Linked DNA regions of Homo sapiens. The protein of the gene in region 2 purifies or fractionates together with the protein of the main gene of each other region. This does not show direct contact. Each region holds a gene or a part of one and is shown on either strand. Other genes may lie near its edges.

Region 1 (4,689 bases), on a different chromosome or scaffold from region 2:
TTCTCTAGTTCCTTGAAATGTGACCTTAGATTGTCTCTTTGTGCTCTTTCAGACTTTTTGAAATGCCTATTTCAGGCTATAAACTTTCCTCTTAGCAACGCCTTTGTTGTATCCCAGAGGTATTGATAGGTTGTATCATTTATTGTTCAGTTCAAAGAATTTTTAAATTCCCATCTTGATTTTGTTATTGACCCAGTGATCATTCAGGAGCAGGTTATTTAATTTCCATGTATTTGCATGGCTTTGAAGGTTCCTTTTGGAGTTGATTTCCAGTTTTATTCCACTGTGGTTTGAGAGAGTACTTGCCATAATTTCAATTTTCTTAAAATTTATTGAGGCTTGTTTTGTGGTCTATTATATGGTCTATCTTGGAGAAAAGTTCCATTTGCTAATGAATAGAATGTATATTTTGCAGTTTTGGGTAGAATGTTCTGTAAATATCTGTTAAGTCCATTTGTTCTAGGGTATAGTTTAAATCCATTGTTTCTTTGTTGACTTTCTGTCTTGATAACCTCTTTAATGCTGTCAGTGGAGTATTGAAGTCTCCCACTATTGTGTTACTGTCTATCTTGTTTCTTAGGTCTATTGGCAATTGTTTTATAAATTTGGAAGCTCCAGTGTTTGGTGCATATATATTCAGGATTGTGATATTTTCCTGTTGGACAAGGCCTTTTATCATTATATAATGTCCCTCTGTCTTTTTGAACTGCTGTTTCTTTAAAGTTTGTTTTGCCTGATACAAGATAGCTATTCCTGCTGACTTTTGGTATCCATTTACATAGAATGTCTTTTTCCACCCCTCTACCTTAAGTGAGTCCTTATGTGTTGGGTAAGTCTCTTAAAGGCAGCAGATAGTTAATGAATTCTTATCTATTCTGCAATTCTGTATCTTTTAGTGGAACATTTAGGCCATTTACATTCAATCTTAGTATTGAGATGTGAGGTACTATTCCATTCATCATGCTATCTGTTGCCTGTATACCCCCCACTTTTTTTTTAATTGTATTTTTGTTTTGTAGGTCCTGTGAGATTTATTCTTTAAAGAGGTTCTGTTTTGATGTGTTTCCAGGATTTAAGATTTAGGGCTCCTTTTGGCAGCTCTTGTAGTGCTGGCTTGGTAGTGGTGAATTCTCTCAGTATTTGTTTGTCTGAAACACACTGTATCTTTCCTTCATTTATGAAGCTTAGTTTCACTGGATACAGAATTCTTGGCTGATAATTGCTTTCTTTAAGGAGACTGAAGATAGGGCCCCAATCCTTTCTAGCTTGTAGGGGTTCTGCTGAGAAATCCACTGTTAAGTTGATAGGTTTTCCTTTATAGGTTACCTCGTGCTTTTGCTTCACAGCTCTGAAGATTCTTTCCTTTGTCTTAACTTTAGATAACCTGATGACAATATGCCTAGGCAATGATCTTTTTGCAATGAATTTCCCAGGTATTCTTTGAGCTTCTTGTATTTGGACGTCTAGGTCTCTAGCAAGACTGGAGAAGTCTTCCTTGATTATTCTCCCAAATATGTTTTCCAAAAGTTTTCTTTGTTTTTTTTTTTTTTTTGGAGACAGAGTCTTGGGAGTCTTGCTCTGTCACCCAGGATGGAGTGCAGTGGCACGATCTTGGCTCACTGCAACCTCCGCTTCCCAGGTTCAAGCAATTCTCCTGCCTCAGCCTCCCCAGTAGCTGGGATTACAGGCGCACGCCACCATGCCTGGCTAATTTTTGCATTTTTAGTAGAGATGGGGTTTCACCATGTTGGCCAGGCTGGTCTGGAACTCCTGACCACAATGATCCACCTACCTTGGCCTCCCAAAGTACTGGGATTACAGGCGTGAGCCACCGCACTCAGCTGGTTTTCTAAACTTTTAGATTTCTCTTCTTCTTCAAATGCCACAGGTGTTTGAGTTTTTTTTGTGATTTTTGTTTTTTTAAGCTCATCAGCTATTGTTAGTGTTAGTGCATTTTATGTGTGGCCCAAGACAATTCGTTTTCCAATATGGCCCAGGGAAATCCAAATGATTGTATACCCCTGCAAACCAATGGTGGAGATTCTCTTGGAGTAGAGCAAAAAGATTAAGGGTAATGACTCCAAAGAGCATGGGCGAGTGGGCAAGTTTAGGGAGTGTTAGCTGCACCTCTTCCTATAGTGTTTTATTTTGTTGAATGGCATGATAACCCAATCTGGTGGTAAACCCCAAACTTGGAATTAGCTCTAAAACTACCTCCTCCTTTAATTCTACTGTTGAATCTGTCAATTCTACCACCCATATTTTTCTCAGGTCTGTCTCTTCTTTTCCATCCTCGCTGCTTCTAGTTGAATAACCCATATGAAATTTGTTTCAAAAATGGCTGAATATCAGCAATTTCAAATTGCTCAACTCAAAACCTTAATTCAGTCCTTTATCAACTCTCATATATATTTTTGCAATAACTGTCCTTTCTACCCCCATTAAACCCTAGAGACATCTTTCTAAATGAAAACTAAATGGCTGGGTGTGGTGGCTCACGCTTGTAATCCCAACACTTTGGGAGGCCGAGGTAGGCGGATCACCTGAGGTCGGCAGTTTGAGACCAGCCTGACCAAAATGGAGAAACCCCGTCTCTACTAAAAATACAAAATTAGCCGGGCATGGTGGTGCACGCCTGTGATCCTAGCTACTCAGGAGGCTGAGGCAGGAGAATCACTTGATCCCGGGAGGCGGAGGTTACAGTGAGTGGAGATCGCACCATTGCATTCCAGCCCGGGCAACAAGAGCGAAACTCTGTCTCAAAAAAACCCCGAAAAAACAAAAAAACAAAAAATAAAGAAAACAAAAAAACCCTCAAATAATGGCAACTTGCTGCTTAAAACCCTTTAAGTGCTCCCGAATTCTCTACAGAATCAAGTCCATATATCTTAACTTGGTATATAATTCACTTAATTCCCAGTTTTCAACCTCTCTGGCTACTGTCTCTTTCTACACTCTGTGTTCTAGCAATACTGCTTTATTTGCAGTTTCTTTAAAAAATTATGCTGTTTTACATCTCTGTGCTTTTGTACATCCTGCTGTCTTTGCCTGAAAAGGCCCTTTCCTTCATTCTCTTTCCCTTTCCTCCTGAGATTCCTAGTTAACGCCTAAAATAGCACTCCTTCTATGGCACCATCCCAGATTACCCAGACAGTGTGTTAGTCTTTCTTTCCTCTGTTACACCCGAATAGCATACGTAGCTTTAAAGCTGTACTTAAGCTAGCTGTTTTTATTTCTGTCCCCTCAACGGATAGTTAATTCCTTTATAGAAACACTATTTTTTAGTATTTACACTGCAAGAACTCAAATATTAACTGTTAAATGAACAAATGGGCGTGAGAGAGCAGTTATGATGGAGAAGGGGTCAAAGGGGTACCAAGGAAGCCATTTTGCTATTCTCTCCTGACAACTTCCACCTTGCCAACATACTGCTTGGTCCTGTGTCAGGAAAAATGTATGAGCTTTTAGGGTGGTCTGGGTGAGACAGGTAATAGGAAGGTCCTAGTTAACAGCTGCTTTTCCCCAGGGAAAGTTCTCAAGATTTAGCATCTGATGGAGAAGAACACTCCTGAGGCTTACCAGCTGGGACAGCTATTATGGTGAAGCCAATTATTTATATGAAAGAGATTTATACAAGAACAGCTTTAGTTTTACGTTTTTTCTCTTGGCATCTTCTTCTTATCTGTTCTAAAAATAAATGAAAACAGCTGGTGGATTTGAGTTCTAAACTTTCTCCTCATATATAATCACTACTGAAGTTGTACAAGAGAAATGACTGAAAGGGTCACCTTAGAAAACAGTATTAAAGGCTGGGCATGGTGGCTCATGCCTGTAATCCCAGCACTTTGGGAGGCCAAGGTGGGAGGATCATGAGGTCAGGAGTTTGAGGCCAGCCTGGCCAACATGGTGAAACCCCATCTCTACTAAAAATACAAAAATTAGCCGAGTGTGGTGGCGCCTGCCTGTAATCCCAGCTACTCTGGAGGCTGAGGCAGGAGAATTGCTTGAACCCAGGAGGTGGAGGTTGCAATGAGCTGAGATTGTGCCACTGTACTCCAGCCTGAGCGAGAGAGCAAGACTCAGTCTCAAAAAAGAAAAAGAAAACAGTATTTTATTTTATTTTGAGACGGAGTCTTGCTCTGTCACCCAGGCTGGAGTGCAGTGGTGCAATCTCGGCTCTCTGCAAGCTCCGCCTCCCGGGTTCACGCCATTCTCCTGCCTCAGCCTCCCGAGTAGCTGGGACTACAGGTGCCCGCCACCACGCCCAGCTAATTTTTTTTTGTATTTTTAGTAGACCCGGGGTTTCACTATGTTATCCAGGATGGTCTTGATCTCCTGACCTCATGATCTGCCCACCTCAGTCTCCCAAAGTGCTGGGATTACAGGTGTCAGCCACCACGCCCAACAAGAAAACAGTATTTAAAAAATTTAAAAATCATATAATCTAGATACTAAATCAGCTGCTGAACTGCTGGCCTGGGTACTCACTATTGTGATCTTTAAAATAGCTCATTTGTTCATTTATTGGTTATCTACCATGTGCCAGACAGCGGCACAGCCAGCCACAAGAATGGATTTTTTTCTAACTCTGTGAGCTCTGGACATCATATACTATCTAGGTACCATTTAATTTCTAAATATCAGTAGGCTGCATGGTCAATGCCTGGCACAAAGAATGTTTGACACTGA
Region 2 (5,950 bases):
CCACTGTGTGCCTAGTGCCAGTCCCCTCTGCTGAAGGAGAAGATGCATGCATAGTTGGCAGGTGGTCCCTGGAGCCCTGGATAGGGGCATTCAAGGAGTGCCCAGGAGGCCCCTGGGGAATAGGGATTGGAGGGGGGCAGCAGGCAGGAGGCCTACAGCCTTTCCTTGGGGAAGGAATGAGGGGACTGATGAGAGAACCCTGAAATCCACATCCCAGGCAGACAGGCAGCTTCAGCCCCCCAGCCTGCTGGTCTTTAGGAAGCCTGGCACAGGGCTGCACACTCCCATTAGAGCTCATTTCAGCCCCTGTGGATGGGGGGCTCCACGGGACCTAGAGGCCTCCCCAAGTCCCTCCCGACAGGGGGCTGAGTGGTCACTGGGGGCTGAGCTTCAGTTGAGTACTTCCTGAGAACCCTCTGGGTCCAGATGAAGCCAGGCTTCTCAGCCAGGCTCTGGAGCCCAAGGGCCTGGGTTCCGGCCCCTGTGCTGCCATTTTCCTGCTAGGCAACTGTGGCCCAATCATGGCGTCCCAGGGAGCCTTAGTGAGCATGAGGCTGTGGGTCAGGCTTGGCACATCGCAGGCCCTTGATAAATGGGCACTGCTGCTAGGAACGCTGCTGTGAGAGTCTCCTAGGGAACATGGCACGTTTGCAGGGCTTCATGGGAGCCTCAGGACGTTCCCAGTCCACAGTGCCCCTTCCCCTCGCCATCCAAAAACACATACTGGGAGCCAGAGACGCCTCACACACAGCTCTGTTTGCAGTGTCGGAAGGAGAAGCAAGGAAAGTTTTTCAGAGAAAGAATACCCAGGGGTGGGCGGGAGTGCGCCTAGCATTGAGAACACCTTAAAAAAGACCGTCCTGGCCGGGCGCAGTGGCTCATGCCTGAAACCCCAGCACTTTGGGAGGCTGAGGCGGGTGGATCACCTGAGGTCAGCAGTTCGAGACCAGCCTGACCAATATGGTGAAACCCCGTCTCTACTAAAAAACACAAAAATTAGCCGGGCATGGTGGCATGTGCCTGTAGTCCCAGCTACTCTAGAGGCTGAGACAGGAGAATTGCTTGAACCCAGGAGGTGGAGGTTGCAGTGAGCCAAGATCGCACCACTGCACTCCAGCCTGGGTGACAGACCGAGACTCCATCTCAAAACAAACAAACAAAAGACCGTCCTGGTGTCAGCTTTTCAGACTTCTGGGTTTTGTTGTTGTGTTGCTGAGTGCCTTGTTATTTACTCCTTGCCTTGTTCCCCGAAGGAATTGAAGCAGCTCACAAAACCCAGAAGCCTGAAAAGTCAAAAACCCAGAAGTTTGGCCAGATGTGGTGGCTCACGCCTGTAATCCTCGCACTTTTGGAGGCTGAGGAGGGAGGATTGCTTAAGCCAGGAGTTCAAGACCAGCCTGGGCAACATAGTGAGATTCCACCTCTACAAAAAATAAAAATAAATCAGCTGGATGTCGTAGTACACACCTGCAGTCCCAGCTATTTGAGAGACTGAGGCAAGGAGGATCACTTGAACCCAGGAGGTTGAGGATGCAGTGAGCTAAGATCACACCACTGCACTCCAGCTTGGGTGACAGAGCAAGACCTTGTCTCAAACAACAAAACCCAGAAGTCTGAAAAGTTACAACGTGAAAGAGGACATCAAGTGAAGGGAAAAATCATGGTAGGAAAGAAAGATGAAGCCAGCAGTCCCCACTCACTGAGCTAGAAGACCTGGAACACTAGACAGAGGTGGTTCTGAGCTTCCTAGTGGCTGAGGAGAGGAGTGAAAGCGGACCCCAGCCCCCGATCTAGCATGGGAGGATGAAAGCACAGCCATTGTTCTGGAGACACTTTCTGGTTGTCATTATACAGGCTCCCTGGAGGATGTGCCTCCTCCCCCTTCAGGATTTAGCTCCTCTACTTCCCCTGGGCTGGTGTGGGCACATTGTCTGTGCTTTGACAGTCCCTAGATCCCATGTGTTCTAGAACCTTCTCTCCCAAAGCAGAACTTTTTTTTTTTTTCCTGTTTTCTGTTTTTTAAATCTATCTCAGCCTCCTGACAAGCAATAAGATTTGGAATATTTGTTGAGGGGATAAATAAATGAACTCCTTAGTCAGTGCAGAGATCTGTGCATTGCGGCCATTTCTTGAGCATTGCCGCCATTTCTTGAGCATTGCCATGTGCAGGTCAGAGACGTGGGAGCCCCCACACAGCGGGGAGGAGAGCAGAGGCGGAGGATGGGGGGGCTGGGCTAACCCAGGCTTTCCAAGCTGTGATGGGGCAGGAGCTTCTCCACTAGCTCGAGGGAGGGGGAACTTGGGCTCTGGGCGCCTGTTTTGGAGGTTGCATCCCTTTGAGGGGCGCTACGGGTTGCAACTCACGCAGGAAAGGTGACCTTAGTAGTGATGGAGGTGGAGTGGGCCAATTTCTGGATCTTTATTTAGTCACCTCCAGCCTTGCTGGGACAGGGATCTGGGGCTAAGCTGCTGTGGTCTCGGCACCCTCTGTCCCCACTTCCCCTCGAGGACGGCTGTTTGAATATTGTCTAGTGTGGGCCATTTACCCCCGTGGGCAGGAGGAAGGTAGGAGGGACTTCAAAGGAGACTTCAAGGGCCCCCCCACTGCCCTTCTAACCTTGCAGATTCCCCTCTCGGGCCTGTTTCCTCTTCTCTCAACCAGCGATGCCAGGCTGAGGCTGTAGGTTCGAGAATCACGTAGGTAATGGGCCTGGCACATAGTAGGCTCTCAAGAAAAGGTTGGAGCCTCTTGAGGAGTCTGCCTGTGATGGATGCGGAGCGCAGACCCAGCGCAGTGCGGCGATTCGCCCAAGGTCACACAGCCGCCCCCCCCAATTCGGACCCCGGGCGGCCTGACTCCGGGGGCCGGGGCTTGTCGGGAGCCAGCGTGGGGGCGAGCAGTGTTTGGAAGAGCGGCCGCGGCAGTGGGTGGGAAGGGGCTTCTATTTTGGAGCGGGTGAGAGGAGCGGGACACGCGGAGGAGGTAAGGAAGGGGTAGGCCCTCTCCGGGATCTCTGTCCCCCAGTCACCTTCCTGCGACCCTTCCTGGGAGGGGCGTCCTGGGCGGTGGGGGAAGGTGGGAGGGGCGGGCGGTTACCTCATCGCCGCCTCCGGGAGGCCCCGCTCGCTCGCGCCGGCGGCTGGGGCGGCGACTCCAGGCGCGGAAGCGAGAGAAGGATAGAGGCACAGAGGCTCCGGGAGGCAGCGCTGCCCCCCGCGCCCCGCACCGCTGCGGGACCCGCGCCGCGAGAGGGGCGGACTTCGGCGCCTCGCGCGTCCGCCGGCGCCTGGGTTGGCGCTGCGGGGCGGAGGCGGTGTCTGAGCGCCGCTCCGGCTCTGCTCTCTCTCGAGCTTCGGCACCCGCCCGAGCCGCTCGCGCGCCCGCCACCTGTCTGCCCACTCGGCTGTCTGTCTGCCCTCCCGCCGCCAGCTCCTGCCTCGGGCCTGCCCTCTCCGGTCTCGGTGCTCCGAGGGGCGACGAGAAGCGCGACGGGGCCGTGGCGCACCGGGCAGGGCGCGCGGGGCGCACGGCCTGGGGGCGCACGGTGCGGCGCCGGCCCATGAGGCTTTCCAGCGCGGGGAGCGACAGCGCCGGCCGGCCATGGGGGGTAGCCTGCGGGTGGCCGTTCTAGGCGCCCCGGGCGTGGGCAAGACGGCCATCATCCGCCAGTTCCTGTTCGGTGACTACCCCGAGCGCCACCGGCCCACGGACGGGCCGCGCCTCTACCGACCCGCGGTGCTGCTCGACGGCGCCGTCTACGACTTGAGCATCCGCGACGGCGACGTCGCTGGCCCCGGCTCGAGCCCCGGGGGTCCGGAGGTAGCGGCTCGAGGAGCGGGCAGGGGCGTGTGACAGTGTGAGGGGTGTGCGTGCTCGGTGCACACGTGCGTGTCCGCGTGGAGGCCTCGGGCGCCTGGCTGTGCTCCGGGATGGAGGGATGTGTGTGCGTCCTGGGATACTTGCGTTTCAGCCCTTCCCGCCGACCTGGAGACGCCCAAGCCCAGGCTGGAGGCCGGGCGATTTTGCCCAGGGGCGTTCCCTTGCTCCTGTGAGCGCCTCCACCTTTGCCTGCCTCGGCTGGGGGTGTGGAGCAGCTCTTGGTGGTGCATAACGGTGCCTTCCCGAGAGTGTGGCGTTTTGTGTTTGGGGCCTTGAGCAGAGCTACAATGGGAGAGACTGGGGTCAGGAGCAGGGGTGTACTTTCTACGGGGGCTGGTGGAGGGGTTCATTCTCTGCCCTATCATTTTTGTCCCCTGGAGCGAAGACTCGTTTAGTAATTTGTGCAAAGTAAAGGACAGACCTCCGACCCTAGAGCAGTGAAGAGGAAAGAGCAGGCAGGATTAAGCAGGGCTTCCTGGAGGGAGTGGCATTTGAGCTGAACCTGGAAGACCGAGTGAAGTTCTGAGTAAAGGAAGTGGCAAAAACATACCAGGTGGAAAGACCAGCAGGTGCTTACGCTACGGTCATAAACGGTTACAGCTGACAATCTGGGGGCGTGGTGGACCACGGGACTCGGGCCAAGGGCTTTGGAATTAGTCTTAGAGGCCGTGGTAAGCACCGAGAGCATCTAGGGAGGAGAGCGGCCTGAGCCGAGTTGGGGAAAGCTGAAAAGAGGAAGATTCGGGGTAAACAGAGGGGAGACCAAGGATGAAGGAGGCTGGCTGACAGGCTCCAGGCACGATTTGGAAAATTTTACCCTGGTGGTCATGAGGAGACGGCCCGGAAAGCTTGGGGGAGGGGCACAGAGGTCTGTATGGGGGTGATGTTGGCCTGAGGATTAGCGTCCAGGCCCCTGCAGAGGGTTCGAGAGCGGAAGAGTGGAAAGGAGGCTTCCGCAAACCCTGGCCTCCTGTCCCCAGGAGTGGCCAGACGCTAAGGACTGGAGCTTGCAGGACACGGACGCCTTCGTGCTCGTCTACGACATCTGCAGCCCGGACAGTTTCGACTACGTGAAGGCCCTGCGGCAGCGCATCGCGGAGACCAGGTAGGGGCCCGGCAGTTCTGGCGGTGGGGAGCTAGGACAGGTCTGGCAGGGCCTTTGCCTGAGGAGAGTGTGTAGGGTCTCCCAACGTCGTGGGCCGGGTCTTAGGCCTTCGCCCGTGGGAAGGTCTTAAGCTGTATGTGCTCTTTGGCCCACATGGGCCTGGGGTTTCGTTGGGGCGGCGGGGGGGGCGGTGTCTCTGGCCGTAGGAAGGGAATGCGCCTGCGTGTGTATACCCACTGGGGGAATTCTCCGGCCGTGGGGTCCCCGCGTCTCTCATCTCCATTCGGCCCCCAGGCCGGCGGGCGCGCCCGAAGCGCCCATCCTCGTGGTAGGCAACAAGCGGGACAGGCAGCGGCTGCGCTTCGGACCGCGGCGCGCGCTGGCCGCCCTAGTGCGCAGGGGCTGGCGCTGCGGCTACCTCGAGTGCTCCGCCAAGTACAACTGGCACGTGCTGCGTCTCTTCCGCGAGCTGCTGCGCTGCGCTCTGGTGCGCGCGCGCCCTGCACACCCGGCCCTGCGCCTGCAGGGGGCGCTGCATCCCGCGCGCTGCAGCCTCATGTGACCCGATCGGACAGTGCCATCCATGGGCCCCACCTTGTGACTGGGACAATCAGGGACCTGGATTGGACGGGATCGCCCAACTTCACTGGGACTGGACAGGGAAGTCTCCGCCCTGATTGGATGAGGAAAGCTCCAACCCAGTCTCCTAAGCGACTGGCCCCCTTTTGAACCTCATTGGACCCAACCAGGTCCCAAGCTCCATTGGAGATGACCAGTCCTTTCTGGGACCTCAATGGGTCACAATCCCATTGGATGGAAAGGACTTGGCTATGAACTTGACTGGAAACACGCAGCCTGCTCCTGGAGCTTCACTGGACATATTCTTTATGCCACACCTACCACGGGATAATAAAAGGGAAAATAATTTGAGTGCGCCTGGGATTTCTGGGCTGGGCGGGATAACG

The links.
Region 1: the proteins of RASL10A (region 2) and RAP1GDS1 purify together in Homo sapiens (affinity purification with mass spectrometry; 3 studies listed by BioGRID and IntAct, with this or other methods). This does not show direct contact.

The regions. Positions count from the first base shown.
Region 1 is NC_000004.12:98,421,634-98,426,322, reverse strand, and holds part of RAP1GDS1 (rap1 GTPase-GDP dissociation stimulator 1), read right to left. Parts: intron 1-4,689. UniProt on the Homo sapiens protein: Acts as a GEF (guanine nucleotide exchange factor) for the Rho family of small GTP-binding proteins (G proteins) that stimulates the dissociation of GDP to enable subsequent binding of GTP.
Region 2 is NC_000022.11:29,312,898-29,318,847, reverse strand, and holds RASL10A (ras-like protein family member 10A), read left to right. Parts: upstream 1-3,150; 5' UTR 3,151-3,601; coding exon 3,602-3,820; intron 3,821-4,860; coding exon 4,861-4,985; intron 4,986-5,279; coding exon 5,280-5,547; 3' UTR 5,548-5,915; downstream 5,916-5,950. UniProt on the Homo sapiens protein: Potent inhibitor of cellular proliferation.